Regions from separate parts of the Homo sapiens genome. Here region 1 is linked to region 2. A link means that fine-mapping ties the variant in region 2 to the expression of a gene that starts in the linked region. Tissue or cell type: cerebellar hemisphere. Region 2 holds a variant in brackets; the other region holds the start of a gene. All regions are shown on one strand. Distances are from middle to middle.

Evidence for each region. PIP is the estimated chance that this variant, and not a neighbour inherited with it, causes the effect.
Region 1: it holds the start of ITGA2, and the variant in region 2 is fine-mapped to the expression of ITGA2 in cerebellar hemisphere (GTEx, PIP above 0.99). The same link has a PIP of 0.9 or more in cerebellum.

Annotation. Positions count from the first base shown.
Region 1 is chr5:52,985,219-52,993,419 of GRCh38, reverse strand. ITGA2 (integrin subunit alpha 2) reads right to left here and starts at 4,068. Exons shown (of 30, transcript NM_002203.4): 1 at 3,888-4,068. The coding sequence starts at 3,951. It overlaps ITGA2-AS1 (ITGA2 antisense RNA 1), which reads left to right and starts at 3,134. Exons shown (of 4, transcript NR_186583.1): 1 at 3,134-3,330; 2 at 5,144-5,216. RefSeq lists a silencer at 4,115-4,264 and an enhancer at 4,729-5,928.
Region 2 is chr5:53,094,977-53,103,424 of GRCh38, reverse strand. MOCS2 (molybdenum cofactor synthesis 2) reads left to right here. Exons shown (of 7, transcript NM_004531.5): 4 at 1,201-1,328; 5 at 1,916-2,066; 6 at 2,891-3,014; 7 at 4,758-7,746. The coding sequence ends at 4,823. Among named protein-coding and RNA genes, the nearest start is that of MOCS2, 11 kb to the left of the region's middle. The variant GC/C (reference allele first, on the strand shown) is at 5,236.

The sequences.
Region 1 (8,201 bases), 110 kb after region 2:
AAACCAGACCATACATCAGAAATATATGAGCCATTGTAAATACTGAATCCTAAACCCCAGTCCATAAATTTAAGTCAAACAGTGGCTCAGGACCTAGTATTAAGAGAGCAAAGCTTAGCTGAGGTTGGGCAGGTATAACTGCTAAGCCATAGGGGAGCAAAGTTACTTTATCAGAGGGCGGCCTAAGTCCCATTAAGGGGCTGAGGATGAGACCAGAGAGGTGGTTTAGGGTGGGACCCAGCAAAGGTAGGTTACCTCAAGCTTTCCTTTTTGTTGCAAAAGTAAAAGTTCTCTACTTTATAATTTTGCTTGGGATTGACCCTTCTAGCATTGGATAATGGTCAGTTGCAAAGAGATGAGTGAAAAGGGGTGAAAGCAACAATGCAATGAAGGCAAAGGGAGTATTTGGAAAATATTTTCACACTAAATATGGTATGATCAGGTGTAGTCATAACAAAGAATGGTGTATATAGATGGCTTTAGAGTGTGTACATGTGTGGGCATGTGTGTGGTGTGTGTGTGTGAATGTGTATTTGTGTTCAGGAAAGCATACAGTAAAGAAAAGATTGGATAGGTAGAATGTACCTTTTTATGACATGCCAAGAAATTGGCACTTTACCCTACCTGAGATGGGGAGCCACTAACATTTGAAACAAAGCAGTAATTGGAAACATATAAGTGTCTTAGAAAGATATCATTAGTGAAAATGAAGAGAATGGGTTGGAGAGATAAGAAAAGAAAATCCAGTTTAAAAGTTACATACAGACATAAGATGAGGGACTGACTGGGTGGCAGGAGTTGCATGGATGGGAGGAGAGCCAAGAGAATTTGGAGAGTGGCTGTGAGGTTGAAAACATGGGGACAAATTCCTGGCTTTCATGTTTGTGTGATAATAATACTGCCATTAAACAATGGTAGCCAATAGAGGAGAAAATTCTGGAGGACACGTATTAAATTCAGTTTTGGAAATGTTGAATCTGGCTTACTTACAGACTGTCTAGCTGGAGAAATTTGGTGGCTGATGGAAATACTGATCTGGAACTCAGAAGGGGAGGCTGGCTGGAGATAGGGACCTGTGCAGGGAATGGGCCCAGAGACAATCTGCAGAATGAAGAGGAGGATTCAGGATGAAACTCTGCAAACACCAACAAGGAAAGAGCCTGTGAAGGAGATGACGGGAGAGCAGCGAGGAAAGGAGGAGAAAAACAGGAAGAGAACAGAAGCCAGAAGTACAGGATGTTTCAGGAGGAAATTAAATATCAAAAGAAATATTTTTTTTACAATAAGAAAAATTAGAATATTTACAGACTGAGGGGAAGTTACATTAGGGAGAGAATTTGAAGACGTGCACTGAAGAGGGATGAGTGCTGGGGCAGGGTTTCAGGGATAGTAAGAAAAGATGTGGTCTAGAACCTGGGTGGAAGGACTATCCTTGACCTGTGAACATACTGGAGAAAATACGTGATGGCCTTCATTTCAAAATTACATTTGCCTTCTGCTAATGGCCTATATTTAGTTTATAGATTATCTAGGCCTCTTATGTTCTCTCTTTTTCATCCTCAGACTGCCCATTTACCATTTTCATGGTATTAAGCACTTAGAAATGAGCACTGAAAGGTGATAAATATAGGACTAAACTATGAGTACATTTTCTTCTTAAGCACCTGTGAAAAGGTTTCTGGAAAGCAAATTTGAATGTAAGTGTTAAAATAAGATTTGAAGGTGATATGTTTTTAAAGTGGTTTGCATGTATGCTAGAGATGATACAAGATGTCTAAACACACATGTGTTTTATACATATTAACAGGTATATATATGTATATACAATTGTATATACATAACACGGCATATTGTATACTCAAGGAACAGGTTTTCTCTTAATTTAAGATCATCATAATGAAGCTCTGTCACATACATAGCTTTTAAATTTGAATTTTTGTATGTGATATGATGCAATTGTACATACTATAATTTTATAACAGTTATGTGTGTGTGTGTGTGTAATGATAGTGAATGAGAAATTTTATACAGATAGGGTAATGCCATACAAAATTTTAGATACTACTGAGCTAGAGATTTCACTTATTCATGTTAACCTGGGATACTCATGGTACCAAAAAACGATGCTGCTTCTCCAGGAACCTCAAGTGATATCACAAATGAGAGAGCTTTCTTATGAGGATCTTAAATTAAGAGAAAACCTGTTCCTTGAGTATACAAATGGCTGGAGTAGGAGGAGGGAATAAATGCACAAAACTTTTGCAGATGTTATTTTCGATCATCTCTGCTTGCTTGCCCTGAGGTGTCCTTATTAACTCCAGGTTAAGTCTCTGTTCCTGACTTCATGCCTTGCAGCGTTACATTCCATTAAAGAATTTCTCACTGCTCTTTACATAACAAGCCTCAACATTTCAAAGATAAGAAAATGATGTTATGTTTCCACAGCTTATTTTAATACTGGGTAATTACAGAGAGATGAAAAGCTTGGGTTTATATTTCTATTAGCTCTAGTTGTATTCCAGAGACTCATTTTCAATGTCAAGTACAACTTTACCTGAAATCCGTAGATTAGGGTTGGTGGCCCCTCAAAACAACTCATCTGGTTCCCGGAGAAAGTATCTGAAGCACCCAATACAGGTGAGACAGAAAACCTAAGATGCCCATTCTCTGCTCGGGCTGGGGACAGTGGTGCTATTTCTCTCTTATCTCTGACCTGGAGAAAATGCCACCAGGTTGACGTGGACTAGGATTCATTCCTCCACAATAAAGAATAGCAAGTGGCTGAATGTCAGTCTCAAAGGAGGACAGCTTAGGAAATATTTATCTTCTTTGTAAAAAAAAAAAAAAAAAACCACACACACACTTTAAAATCAGAGACAACTTTTTTGTTTTGTTTTGATCGCTGTTCAAACTACATTATACAAACGTGTCTCCTTCTCCCTCCAAATAAACTAAAATTCTTAAATTTGACCACACTCTAGCTCTGCCTAATGGTCAGGGAAAAAGTACTCAGGCGATGGTCCCACAAAAGCTCTCCACCCCAGCCTTATTTCCTCCTCTTAGTGTAAAAGAACTCAGGAGGTGGGCGGGCCCCACTGCCACAGCACTACAGTTAGAGCGGCTGCTCCGGCTTATTCTCTCATTGCGGCATCTAGGATCCAGAAGTGAAAAGAACTTTTCCTAGCCTAAGTTTACATTCGTCGAATAGACAATGTTACAACAATAAGAGGAAGGCAGAAGGGAAGGAAGAATTCCCCTCTGCCAAGTATTTAAGTGGCGCTTGGTTTATTCCAAGTCCCCCCGGGAAGAAACACAGCGCTTCGTCCTCAAGTAAGAAATAGAGGCATTATTCACATCCTTGGGTTGAAAAATAAGCATTTTGGGGCTCGCAGGCTTCTGCAAAGCCAGCAAGCACCGCGCTGGGGAGCTGCAGGCCGCCATCAGCAATGGATTCCGGATTTCCCTGGTCTCTGGCAGGCGCGGCACCTGTCTGAGCCAGGGGAAGTTGGGCTGCAGGACTCGCGGTCTCCAGGACACCCGCGGATCCCCACACTGTCCATGCTTGAGTGCGTGCGTGTCTGTCTGTGTGTGTGTGTGTGTGTGTGCGTGTGTGTACCTAAAACAAAGCACTCACTGAGATGACTTTGGAGGGTGCTTAACAGACAGGGCGAGACGCGCCTAATGGGGACGCAAGGCCTGGGATAGCAGGAAGGGAACGAAGAAGTATCTCTTTCCAAGCAGGTCCTGGTGGCTGGGAGCCCGAGTCCACGTGGAATCCGAGGGAACACACGGAGCTCGCTCCCTAGTTCCGCCCAATCCCTCCAGCGAGCCCCAGGAAGCCGCGCGGGTCCCTCCTGCAGCCGATGCAGAGCGAAATCCCCGCTTACCTTGACTGAGCGCTAACACCAGCAGCAGCGGCAGCGGCGCGGCCCCTGTCCGTTCTGGCCCCATCCTGGGTCTGACCGGGGGACCGTAGTTGCGCTGGGTTTGCAGAGGTTTGCAGAGGATACCCTTGGCCGAGGGATACGAGAACCTGCACACTCTAGAAGCTGTCCAGAGGGCTTCTCTCCCCCGCCCGGTGAGAGCAGGGAAAAGTTTCTGGGCAGCTCCTGCAGCGCCGAGGGCCCGCCCCAGCCCGCCCCTCCTGATTCCGCAAACACCGGATCTGCTCCGGCCGCGCCCCGCCCCACCCCGGCCCTGCGGCCCCGCGGGCTGCACCTCGGCTCGTCCACACGCGGGGCACCGCACCTTGGCTCCCGTACAGCGGCCCAGCCCCGGCAGCCTGGAGGCGGTGGGGATGGGGATGGCGCCCTGGCAGGCTTTCCTGCCCTGGACGGGACGGGTGGGCATATCCGACGGGCGAGCGCCCGCCCTGGCACCACTCCGCCCCCGCAGCCTGTCGCCAGCACGCAGGAGATGCCCCAGTCCCCGGGAGAACGTGGCCCCTCCGCAGCCCTTGGCAGCGCCCGGCTCCTGGCAGCGGGTGCCGAGGGCACTAGCCCTAAACCACAGTGCCTAGGGGCTGCGCGGTGCGTCCCTTTCTCTGTTTTTCCTAAGTGGGTGGAGAAAGGGACAAAAATAAGCGCAGAATGACCAGGTTAGAAACTAACTCATCAGGAAAGAAGATCTGCTCACAAGTTATGATTATCCAAGGTGATATTTAAGCAATACCTGCTGCAAGAGCTGTGTGTGTGTGTGTGTGTGTGACAGAGAGACAGAGAGAGAGAAATCATCATTACTTCCTCTCCTCCGAGATAATTAAGAGCTGATTTAATGACTGAGTTTAGGAGATTAACTTCAAGGCCAGAGAAAAGGCTGAGAGCCCATACATGCACTTGTGACTCTCCCTGTCTACATTACACCATGACATAGACTGTGACCATTTTCTTCCATTATTTCAGTCTCACATCTGGAAAGAGAACATTCTATATCCGAGATTTTTAGTTAAAAACCTAAGAAATAGGATATTAATTTTTCTTGTCTGAATCTTATGTTTTATCCAAAAGTTTGGCCACAAATTTCCAGCACATTGCTGAAACCAGAATTCTTCCAGTGACTACTTTTGTGAAGGAACGAACTGTTTTCATAAATCAAGCTTAAGGAGTTATGAGTCTAATAATCATCATTATTGTCATCATTCCAGATCTTCATGGAATGCTACTATGAGCTGAATGGGATGCCTGAGATACTGCCTCTAGGAAGCAAAGTGGCTCAAGGTGGGAAGGACTTAATAATTCATAAAAATCAAGCTCTTCTCTTTACTATAGATAGGGCTGATGTGTCACATTGTTAAAGTATTAAATTGGTATGCATCAGATGTTGCTGCTGATGGCTTATGACTAATACCCTTTGAACCCAAATTATATAGTCCCAGGCTCTTTCCTGTTTTCTTATCAGTCACTTACTGGCTGCACTTACTCACCTTGACAAACACCTGAAGGCATTTTTTTCTGAATTGTCTGGGGTACTCACCTGCTTACTAAAACTCCGGCTATCACCTGAGAGCTCTTAGGTGGCTGCTCACTAACCGGTGACACGATTTTGACGCTCCTTACAGACTTTTTGAAGGAAGTCAGCCAGGTTTCAGGGAGATGAATATCTGTCTGTTTCCTTCTGACTCACTGAAATGTGAGTAAGTGTTTGGAACAGACCTGTGTTTGGGAGGCAGGACACTTCCTTTAATGTGAGACAGGAATTTGTGTTTTATCTCTGGGGGTGGGGGGAAATAACATGCATCCTTCTTGGTTTTTGTTCTCAGAACTGGACAAATTAACATTACACTGTCATGAAGTGCAGAATAAGTCAGGAGCTACGATTTTCCAGAGCCAGGCAAAACTTTTAGAAACAAAGAACAAACTCCTGCCTCACATTAATTTTAAGAGGATAAAGTGTTCCTGAGACAAAGTAGTTTGAGAACCCCTTCCAGGGTGCTCTCCTGCCTAGTTGCAGTTGTGAGGGACACCACATTCAGAGCAGGAAATATGGAAGGTTAAGCTGGGGCTTCTCAAACTCTTTGGTCTCAAGAGCCCTTTACTCAGTAAGTCCTTTAACAAAAATCCTATTATGTGTGAACATAAATAATGTACATTTTATGAAAAATAACTATATTTCTCCAAATGAAAGAATCCGGGAGAAGAGTGGCATTGCTTTACATTTTTGCTAATATTTTAAATATCTGGCTTAAAAACAGACATTTGGATTCTCAGATCTGCTTCTGCATCCAATCTGTTACGGCATGTAGTTTTGGTGAAATTATATTGATTAATCTGGTGTTACACAGATATGGACTTAGAAAAACAGGAGATAATTCTGGATAATCCCCTGATACTACACCAAAACTCAACAAGTGGTAGTTTCTTAAAGTTGCAATGTGGAATCTGAAACCATATCAATGGTTTTTCCTATTCCGTGGCATTAAAATTCATTGATCTGCTGGCCTCTCCGTGTCCCTCTCCCTTTCTCTTCCTGTGAGTGCCCAGTGATGAAGAATACAATGACCACCAGTCCCCATCCTTGTTCTTGCACCATGAGGGCAAATGTCAACACAGTGAAAAACGCAGTAACGTCTCAGTATTGTTATGAAAATAGTTTTGACTTCACTGGCCACTTGAAAGGATCTTGAGAGACCCAGAGACCCTACTCCAAAAAGCACTCAGGGGTGAAGTGAGGCCTTCCCCTCTTTTTCTTTTCCTTAGCTCAAGACAGAGTTTTGTTGGGGAACACGGCTCAGATAAGTTTCCCCAGTGTTTCCTTCTGATCTGTTGTATCGTCATGCCCTGCCCTCCTTTGTTTATCCCGTTTTCATATAGACAATCACCCAAACCAGAAACCTCTGCTTTCTTCCCCAGGTGCACCACCAGCCCCCTGCTAACATCCCATTCCAATTCTGTCTTTACACCCTACTAGGGTTTTCTGTGCCATCTCCTATTTTCTGTTCCACTGCTAATCTCTCTTTGGTTCAAACCCTTTTGATCTTTCACCATGGTGACAAACTCCCATATAATCTCTCTGTGCTTCCTTCTCTCCTGTTCCAGTTCATCTTTTATACCTGTTGTCACAGTTATCCAAAAATGCAGGACTGATCTGCTGAAAATCATTAGATGTCTTCAGGACATTCAAAGTACCCTAGGGTTTAAGGTCACGATTTGGCTCCAACTCACCTCTGTGGGCTCCGTGGCTATCTTTCCCTCTTGCACACTATGTTTAGGCCAAATTCACGAGTTCACTGGCCTGCCTTTCCCATTCTTCATTGTCAATTCCTTATTTTTCTACTTAGAATAGCTTTCTTTTTTTCTTCCATTGTTTCAAATTCTACTTCAAGGCTCCAGTCAAATTCTATATTATTAGCCCAGCCTTTCCCATTTTCTTCACTGAGAACTAATCATTCTTCTTTCTTGGCTCTGGTTTCCTCTAGCTTTTTTTTTTTGTTTTTGTTTTTTCCCCCAAATAAACTTTCTTTTGTATGTATTACAGAGTAATATATTATTGAGTTATATGTGTATATTCTACCTTCTCATTTAAATGCTGGGTCTCTGAAATCTTATACATTTTTGTTATAAGAGTCTAGTCCTATACCTAGTAAATAAATTTCTAATAAATATTAATAGTTATTATAATACATTGAAATGAGTTTCCTAACAATTCCACATTCTTCTCCCTAGACCTGAAAAGGGTGGTAAATATGAACTTCTAGGTAAGTCCTAGTAATTTTGAAGTGAAGTAACCAGTGGCTTCTCAAATGTTACTCAGTGAATCCATGGGATGAGTGAGTAAAGCTTAGAATCCATTGAGCTTGACTCACACACAAGTCTCTAAGCACTGGCTGGGGTGCATAATGGCCAAAATAAAAGAGACACTCCTAACTTAAACACAAACAAAACAAATAAAATAATTCTAGATTTCCTAGCTTCCTGGACCCATCAATACACTGATGAATCATATTCATATTTCGATTCTAGCACAACTACGGTTGACTGGCCTTACTTGTTTTCATGCTTGTGGCAGACATGCAAAGCTATTTGCCAGCTCTGCCAATAGGGCTTTCTCAGAGTCTTCCATGATCCCCTTCTAGAAGTCACTGAGTCACATAATCCTGCCTCCTTGTCGCTAAGCCAAACACCTGACCAAGCTCGATCAATCTCCTAGGGATTTACATTCATGGTATACAGATTCTAGAATCTTTGCTGATCACATGAAATGGA
Region 2 (8,448 bases):
CTTCCTTTTTTGTTGGATAAAGAAAAAGACAGCTTTAGGTGTGGTGCTTGGTACCATAGTGGTGAGAGGGGATGGGCATGTAGGTGAAAGTGGCAATACCTCCACTGTATCTTGATGGGAGATATGAATAGCAGTTACAGAATTTGGAATATATTGGCATTGAGACAGATTATATTTTAGTGATCATGTTAATAATGGATTACTTTTTATGTCATGCCTGATTCATTATGAATATTTATACACATAATTGAGTTTTGTTAATTTTTACACTTGCTTATTTTTATCATTCAGATCAAATCATGCCTCCTAACACATTTAATGGTGGGGAAAAAAAGAAAAGAAACTTTTTATCTGAGGAATGTGAGCCCGTCAGATAAAACATTAAGAGGCACAGAAAGGCACTGGAATGAAATGGCAGTCATGTCACTCCCCATTAAGCTGCATCATTACCTTTTTTTTCTTTTTTTTTTTTTGAGATGGGGTATCACTTTGTCGCCCAGACTGGAGTGCAGTGGCATGATCAGTTTCAGCTCACTGCAACCTCCACCTCCCAAGCTCAAGCAATTCTCCTGCCTCAGCCTCCCAAGTAGTTGGGATTATAGATGTGTGCCACTACCGCCTGGCTAATTTTTGTATTTTTAGTAGAGACGGGGTTTCACCATGTTGGCCAGGCTGGTCTCAAACTCCTGACCCCAAATGATCCACCCGCCTCGGCCTCCCAAAGTGGTGGGATTACAGGTGTGAGCCACTGGTCCCTTGAAGCCACTTATTATGAGGGCTGCAGACTAGCTGAAGCTAAGAAACCATAAAGTCCATATGCTGGACACTCTAACTTGTACCCACCCTATAGTTCAACAGTGTACAGCCAATCAGTGATCAACATTATCTCTGTATGCCAGTGAGAATTCTTGGTGAAACTTTGTATCATTGTATCAGCCCACTTTTTGTTCCCTTTGCCTTTACAAACCTGCTTGCAACAAAGGCCGAGGGAGTGCTCCCCAAAGGAACTCCCCAAGGTATCTTAGAAGCATCCTGGGCCACTGTCCTTGATTTGACTCATGTAAACTATATTTTGTGCCACAGCCTCTTCCTTTTACATCGACATAATGTAGAAAAAAATATAAATTGAAAGAGCCTATAAGTTGTTGAGTGTTTTACCCCTAGGACTTCTGTTAAGGTTTGTTAATGTATTATTTCTAGGAAAGATATGGATGAAGTTGAAGAGAAATCTAAAGATGTTATAAACTTTACTGCCGAGAAACTTTCAGTAGATGAAGTCTCACAGTTGGTGATTTCTCCGCTCTGTGGTGCAATATCCCTATTTGTAGGTGAGTTGTAATTTTCATTGCATCTATCACTGTATAAGACAATAGAAATTAGCATGTGCTTTCCATGTTCAGTGTTAACGGAGGAGTTTGAAATACTGAACTTTAAACCAAGATTACCGATGATGGTGGGTAGACTTTTTTTTAGTTCTTGTTTTGTTTTAGTAACCTTCAAATTAACCTATATTAAATTACAAGGCATTTTGAAAAGTAGGATAAAAGTCATTGTTAGGAGAGAGAATTCTAGATTTTCCAAAATTGAAGGTAAAAATGTACTTGATAGTCCTGGGAACATAAATATTTTCCTTTTAAGTATCTATTAGTCAGAAGAGGAATATTGCCCGGTTTGCCAGGTGAGTGTTTTTAGTAAGCTTGCTTAATCAGTGCTCATCTTTGTGAAGATCTGTTTTATTTTCCTAATCAAATTTTGTTTTTAGAAGATTTCAAAGTAGTTTTAGAAGAATTGGTATGCTGCTTGTTTACTATTAATTTACTATTAAAAATATTCCTTTTTTATTAACGTGCTATTTCTTTTGTAGGGAAAAACCTTATTTTAATTGTTTTCTTTTTCTTTTTTTTCATTTTTAAAGGGACTACAAGAAATAACTTTGAAGGGAAAAAAGTCATTAGCTTAGAATATGAAGCATATCTACCCATGGCGGAAAATGAAGTCAGAAAGATTTGTAGTGACATTAGGCAGAAATGGCCAGTCAAACACATAGCAGTGTTCCATAGACTTGGGTATGATTTCCTTTATCACTCTAAAAGTTAAGTGTAATTGTTTTCCATCTTTGTACTAACTCTGATTCTTGAATCTTTCTTAGTAATTCTATATTACCATGAGAGGAATATTCATGTATTATTTTTGGAGGACAATAGGGATGGCTGTTAGTACCTTTAGGGACTGCCTAGTGAGTTTTGATATTGGGAGAGCTCTTGTTGCCTCTGTTGCTGTAACAAACTGCAGTTGTGCCAAGACTTGCAGGCCCTATGACAATCTGTGACAGATTCTTTTTGATATAAATGCCTCGAAAGTCATTAGAGTGGTTTGCCTTTTTGTACCCCTAAAAAGAGAAGAGTTCTTGGCTTTAAAAAGAAGCCAGTAATTGAGACTGTATCTATCATACTCTGTTAGTTACTAGTTTGTTATTAATAACCAGTAGTTTTATTAATGGTTATTATCACTCCTATTACTTGATATGTATTATTTTAAATTTTGTATTATACTCGTTAGGACATAACTTTGTATTTCTAGGCATTACTTGGCACTGTGCCTTGTTGAGTCAGATGTTTGCTCTATCAATGAAAGGATTTTCCTTGGTGCCCATCAGGAGGGTTTAGTGGATAGATTCTAACAAATTAGCTGTAGCATCAGCCTCATCTACTGCCTCTGCTGAATGCTACTGCAATTAATTACTCTTTTCTAACTGTATGTTTACGTAAAATAGAACTACAGTATAATTCTAAGACTGCATACCTGGATTTTTTTTCATCTGTCTAGCAGATTCTTTAACACGTAGATTCAGAGATGATGGTGATTTTTTTTTCTCTTCATCTTGTTAAAGCTTGGTTCCAGTGTCAGAAGCAAGCATAATCATTGCTGTGTCCTCAGCCCACAGAGCTGCATCTCTTGAAGCTGTGAGCTATGCCATTGATACTTTAAAAGCCAAGGTGCCCATATGGAAAAAGGTAAGTTAAGAAAATAACACATTTTAGCATGTGGACCTGATTTTTCTCAGGAATTTTTAGATAAATCCCCCCATATTTATGGACTTTTTACTGACTGTAGTATCTTGTTTTCTTTATCTGTGAAATATCTTCTTTCCAAGATTTGTTAAGCATGAAAAATATGTGCCCCAAAGAATGCATGGCACACAGTAAGCCTCAATGAGTGATAACAGTGAGAATTCCTAGTCTGGACTGTTGGAGGGGTTCATACATGAAGTTATTTTCCTTGGATTATAATTCCCTTGAATTAGAGGGTCTTTCTGTTGGAGAGTGAGAATAATGCATTAGCTATTTAGGTAATGGCTAAAATAGAAATTCTTTAAAGTGAAAGAGGCTTTTCCTAGAGGTCCTTTTTAGGGAAGAAAAAAAAATGGTGAGATATTGCTCCCTCTGAGAAAATGCAGTGAGTGGATTTAAAAACAGAAATAGGAACTTCTGGCATGTTTTCTGTCAATAAGGGCAAGTAATTCTCTGGTTAAATAGAGCATTCTGATGGGATGAAAAGGCCCAACTCCCTAGTTTCTCCCCTGGTGTAGTAACATTAACAGTGGGATTGTTCTGTGGTTGCACATTCAATGTCTAGAATTGTCTAGAATTGCCTACAGCGTTGTGGTTGACAGAAAGCTGAGGAGTTAATGAACAGCTCAGTAGATGAAAAGACCAGAGCAGAGAGCCAGGGCTTTTAAAGGGCACTTCTCCCCTCCTTCCCAGGGGACCTGCCTCAGTCAGTGGTAGAAATAAGCAAGTTGGACTCATAACCAGGGCCTGGGAAATTTGATGACCATGTTTTCAGAATAAAATTGAAGCCCATTGTTAGAATACGTAGGGATTAGAGGATAGAATATGTGTGAAAGGAAACTTAGTGAAGCTCAGATATATTGTTCCCTTGCTGTGAACAAGGCTGACACAACAGGAGGCAGGCCCCCAGAGAGCGAGAGGTAGGAAGAGCATTCTAAGATCAGCTGCAAGCCTGGAAGGCAGGGGTAGCTTTCTTCACCAGGGAGGAAAGGGTGCACAGTCAGTGGACAGAAAGTAGATGGGAGCAACCCCAGAAATACAGGTAATGAGCAGGAGTTGGGGCATATTCTTGTTTTCATGCTTTGAGGACTAGTTGGGCTTCGTATTTTGCTTTTGTTTGTCCATAGAGAGTCCGAGGAAGTGCAGGAGTTCAGAGGACAGTTGAATTTGAATTCCTCTCCCTACAGAAATGGAATGTGACTAGAGAGTGAGAAGAGAAAGTGATATGTTCTCCTTACCCCTCCTTTCCACAAACTATGTAACTTCTAGTCTGGTTCTAGTCTCGGCCTGTGCTTTGAGATCATCTGTGATATAGGGAAGGGTGGCAGGTAGGTAGAGTGCATATGTCAAAGAACAGCTCATACCAGAGGGCAGCTCAAACTTGTTTAGGAACTTCTGAGAGGTGACCACTTAATTCAACAGCTAATGAAGATATCTGCCTTTGGAAAAGCATATTTAGAAATGTTGAAGTAGTAGGTATGTTTGGAAAGAAAAAAAAATGTTTAAAACTAAAGACTTTCTGTCTTCCCCTATGTAACCTTGCCCATGATGTCTCTCGTCATGATTGTTAAAAGAGGAGCCATTGAAATAGATGTGATATTCATTTGTCTGATTTATTCAAATATATTTTATATTCGTATAGTAGAATGGTCTATTTTTAATACCTGTTATGATTTTGTTTTTTAGGAAATATACGAAGAGTCATCAACTTGGAAAGGAAACAAAGAGTGCTTTTGGGCATCCAACAGTTAATCACTTATGTTTTTAGAGCATGCAATCTTAACTTTGTTAAACTATTATTATTGATCACATTTTGATTTTTTTCTCTCCACATCAGGATAGTTTACTGAAGCACAATCTCTTATACTAGTGGGACAAAAGGGAGAAAAAGGAAGCAAGATAAATGGGTATGTAGGATGAAGGGTTATTTAAAATGGAACTAAAGATAGAAGGAGGACTGTAGGAAGAAATGGAATAATTTAAATGTGAGGAAAGATATCTGTGGTAGACATGTCCTTCCATGACTAATTTCTAATTGTAACTCAACACACATTGAGGTATGGGCCCTCCTCAGTGACTTTAACTAGCTCAGAAACGTACTCCCCCACCAACCCCACCTCACCGCCCCCCATCCCGGTTCTGGGAGAGCATTGTTATTAAGGAT[GC/C]ATGACAGGAATGTTGGCAGAACTGGAAAGTATTAAAAAAGCATTATCAGACAGTCTTGATATTATACATTTTCAGAAATATATTAAAAATAATAAACTAAAACCCATGATTTCAAAAGTTTAAAAAGAGTATTTTCTTTTTTTTTAAATTGCCTAAAATAGTTCTCATTATGGAGATTTCTGGGATTTCAGAATCTATAATCTTACCAGAAAACTTTTTGTTGTTTTTTATTAGTTGTTAATTTTGTATCAATATACAAATCAGCACAAAATTGTCATAAAGCTAACTAGCAACAAGGTGGTTTGTGTTGAAATGTTTAGGTAAACAATGCCCCAATTTTTAACTGGTTAAGCTTTATAGTATTTTGATAGACTTGTACATATAAGTCCCATATAGTTCTTAAATTTTTTTTTCCAGCTTTATTTAGGTATACTTGACAAAAATTGTATGTATTTAAAGTATACAATGTGATTTTTGATACACATATACATTGTGAGGTGATTACCATAATCCAACTAATTAACATATTCCTCAGCTCACATAGTCCCCTCTTCTGTGTGGTGAGAATATTTAAGGTCTACTCTCAGCAAATTTCAGGTAAACACATAGCTCATAAAATAATAAAATACAGGCAAAATTTGGGCAGTCGGCATCATCACAAAATTTGCATTATGCATATTAAGAACAAAAGCTATACTTTCAGACACTTAGATTGAAGGATTTTTTTCTTATGTCTGGGACAAATAAGAAACGTAGTAATCCTATTTGTTATATGTAGTGAAAACATCTTTTACCTAAGGAACCCATTTATTCAACAAATATTTATTGAATGCCTGTTTTGTGCCAGGCACCCACCCAGTGATCTTTTTCTGCCAACCTAAAATACCTTGAGGAACACTCTGCATCTTATCTGTGGCTGGGACCCATAGGACAGCCACACTGACTTTAGGAATCACCTGGTTACATCAGTTGATGCTTGTTCATTAGTCCGTCTGGAGAGATTGGGCCAGAAGGATACTGGAAGGGCAGACAAACCCTCCGCCTACTTCCTCTGCCGGGTTCGGGTTGCCTGTTTGGTCTCAGCCTTACCTTCACAGTTCAGTGTCACTCTGGCTTGCCATCGAGCTTCCGCCTGTCCCCATTGGAGAGAAGGGGTGGGTGTTGGCTGTTGCATTATATCTAAAAGCACATTATCATGGGGTTACTGGGTCACTGGACATTTCTAGGATTTTGGACATAGGTTGTTAAATGGATGTTATGTCATATGCAATGTTGATAGGTATATGTGGATTTCAAGACTTTCCTACTTAGATATTTCTTTAGAAGTTCCTTATTGAGGGTAATGATGTTTTTAAAGAACATAGAACATTCTTTATGTTTTAAAAGAATCATGCCTTCATTAAGTAGGCTTTATTCTAAGTTTGGAACTGAGACTGTTATGCTTTTAAAGTCTCCAACAGAGAGGTTAAGGAGTTAACCTGGGGCATGCCAGAACTGGGATGGAATGGCCTTGAAAGATTTTAGTGCATTGCACTTGACTTAGATAGGATCTTTACTGACCCTTGCTTACTTAGGAGTGGCAGAGTTAATTGGTGGTTCAGATATTAAGGGGCTACTGTCACTCTGATATGTAGCTTTTCTATCATCTCTGTAACTTAGCTTCAAGTAACTAGAAGAGTAATCTAAAAAAAATAATTAGCCTTTAATCAGATTGCCTGCAGTGTTTCTTGGTCACTTTAAAGCCGTGACTTTGCATGATTGCTAGGTAAGTTCACTTAAGAAATAGGAAATTCAAATTATTTATGTTTCAAGTATTTTTGAACAGGTGGTAAAATGAAATTGATTTTTATCATCTTTGAATGAAAGTAACAGCAGATATTCAATGAGTGACTTATTTTGTGGACATTTTTGTCCTTTGGATATGATGTATAGAGTCACAATATATTTTCAGCCTTTTTTGAGAAATAAGTGATTTAGACATCTTACACAGTTACTGAGCACCTGGTACAGTGAAGATCTCTCAAGAATGATTTGTGTGATGTAGTTCGGTGGATCATCCAGCAGAGGGCAGTAGAGCCAGAGCCATAGTAAAAGTTATAGTAAAGTTGCTCTTAGCAACTTGAGTCTTACTTAGATTTAATTTTGCATAGAACCAAAAGTTCAGTTTAGTAGCCATTTTCTTTAAAGTCAGGCTGTAGTGGTTCCGAAATGAAAATTAGGCCCTGATTTTATGTAAGATGATGTCCAATCTTTAATTGACACCTTAAAAATATTAAAAGATTATGATAGGATCAGGAAGGAGTTTTTGAAAATGCAATTTGTAGTTTTTAACAAGTGATGTAGAATAAATAAAAAGAAGTACTTTTTAAAAAGTAAGTATAAAATTATTTTCCAGTTAACTATGGGATATAAATGATTGCTTTAATACAGGTCTTCCTAACCTGTACAGCATTTCCTAACCTGCTCTGTGAAAAACAAAGAAATAAAACTTAGTGCTCTCTTTCTCTAACATTTTATTTTTTAAGAGCTGGGAGGGGGGGGGTCTCATGTTGCCGGCCTTGAACTCCTGGGTTCAAAGGATCCTCCCTGCCTCAGCCTCCCAAGTAGCTGCAATTCCCACATTCAGCTCTCCAAGATTGTATTTTAATGTGAGATATATAGCAGACACACTTATTGATGGTTGTGCTGCAGTGAGCTGCCCTCCTGAGACGGCTCAGCACAACTGCGATGGGCAGGGAGGCATGTGAGAGAGCGCCGCAGACATGAATGGAGATGCTGGTGCATCGCTATTTATGGCAGCACACACACACTTTCCACCCTGTCTTTGCATTACTCTGCCATCTGTACAGCGATGGCAGTCTGTGAGCCCAACGTGTACTTACTTTATAACTTACAGCATATTTATTTCAGCATATTTACTCTTTAAAAATATTTAAACCTTCCTGCTTATTATGATTTTTTTTAAACTGTGCAGATGACTCTGCTTTTGCATGTTGCAGCAGTTTGGCTGATTTTTTTTCCCTCTCTATTCCAAGCACACATTTTATTTCAAAAGGTAAGCTTTAGAGCAGTGCTTCTCAACTTCAATGCAATATGAATCACCTGGGGATGCTGTAGAACTTACAATTTGACTTGAATAGTTTTGAGTGGCCCCTGAGATCTGTGTTTTTTAACAGGCTCCAGGTGATGCAGCACCATCTGTCCCTGGGCC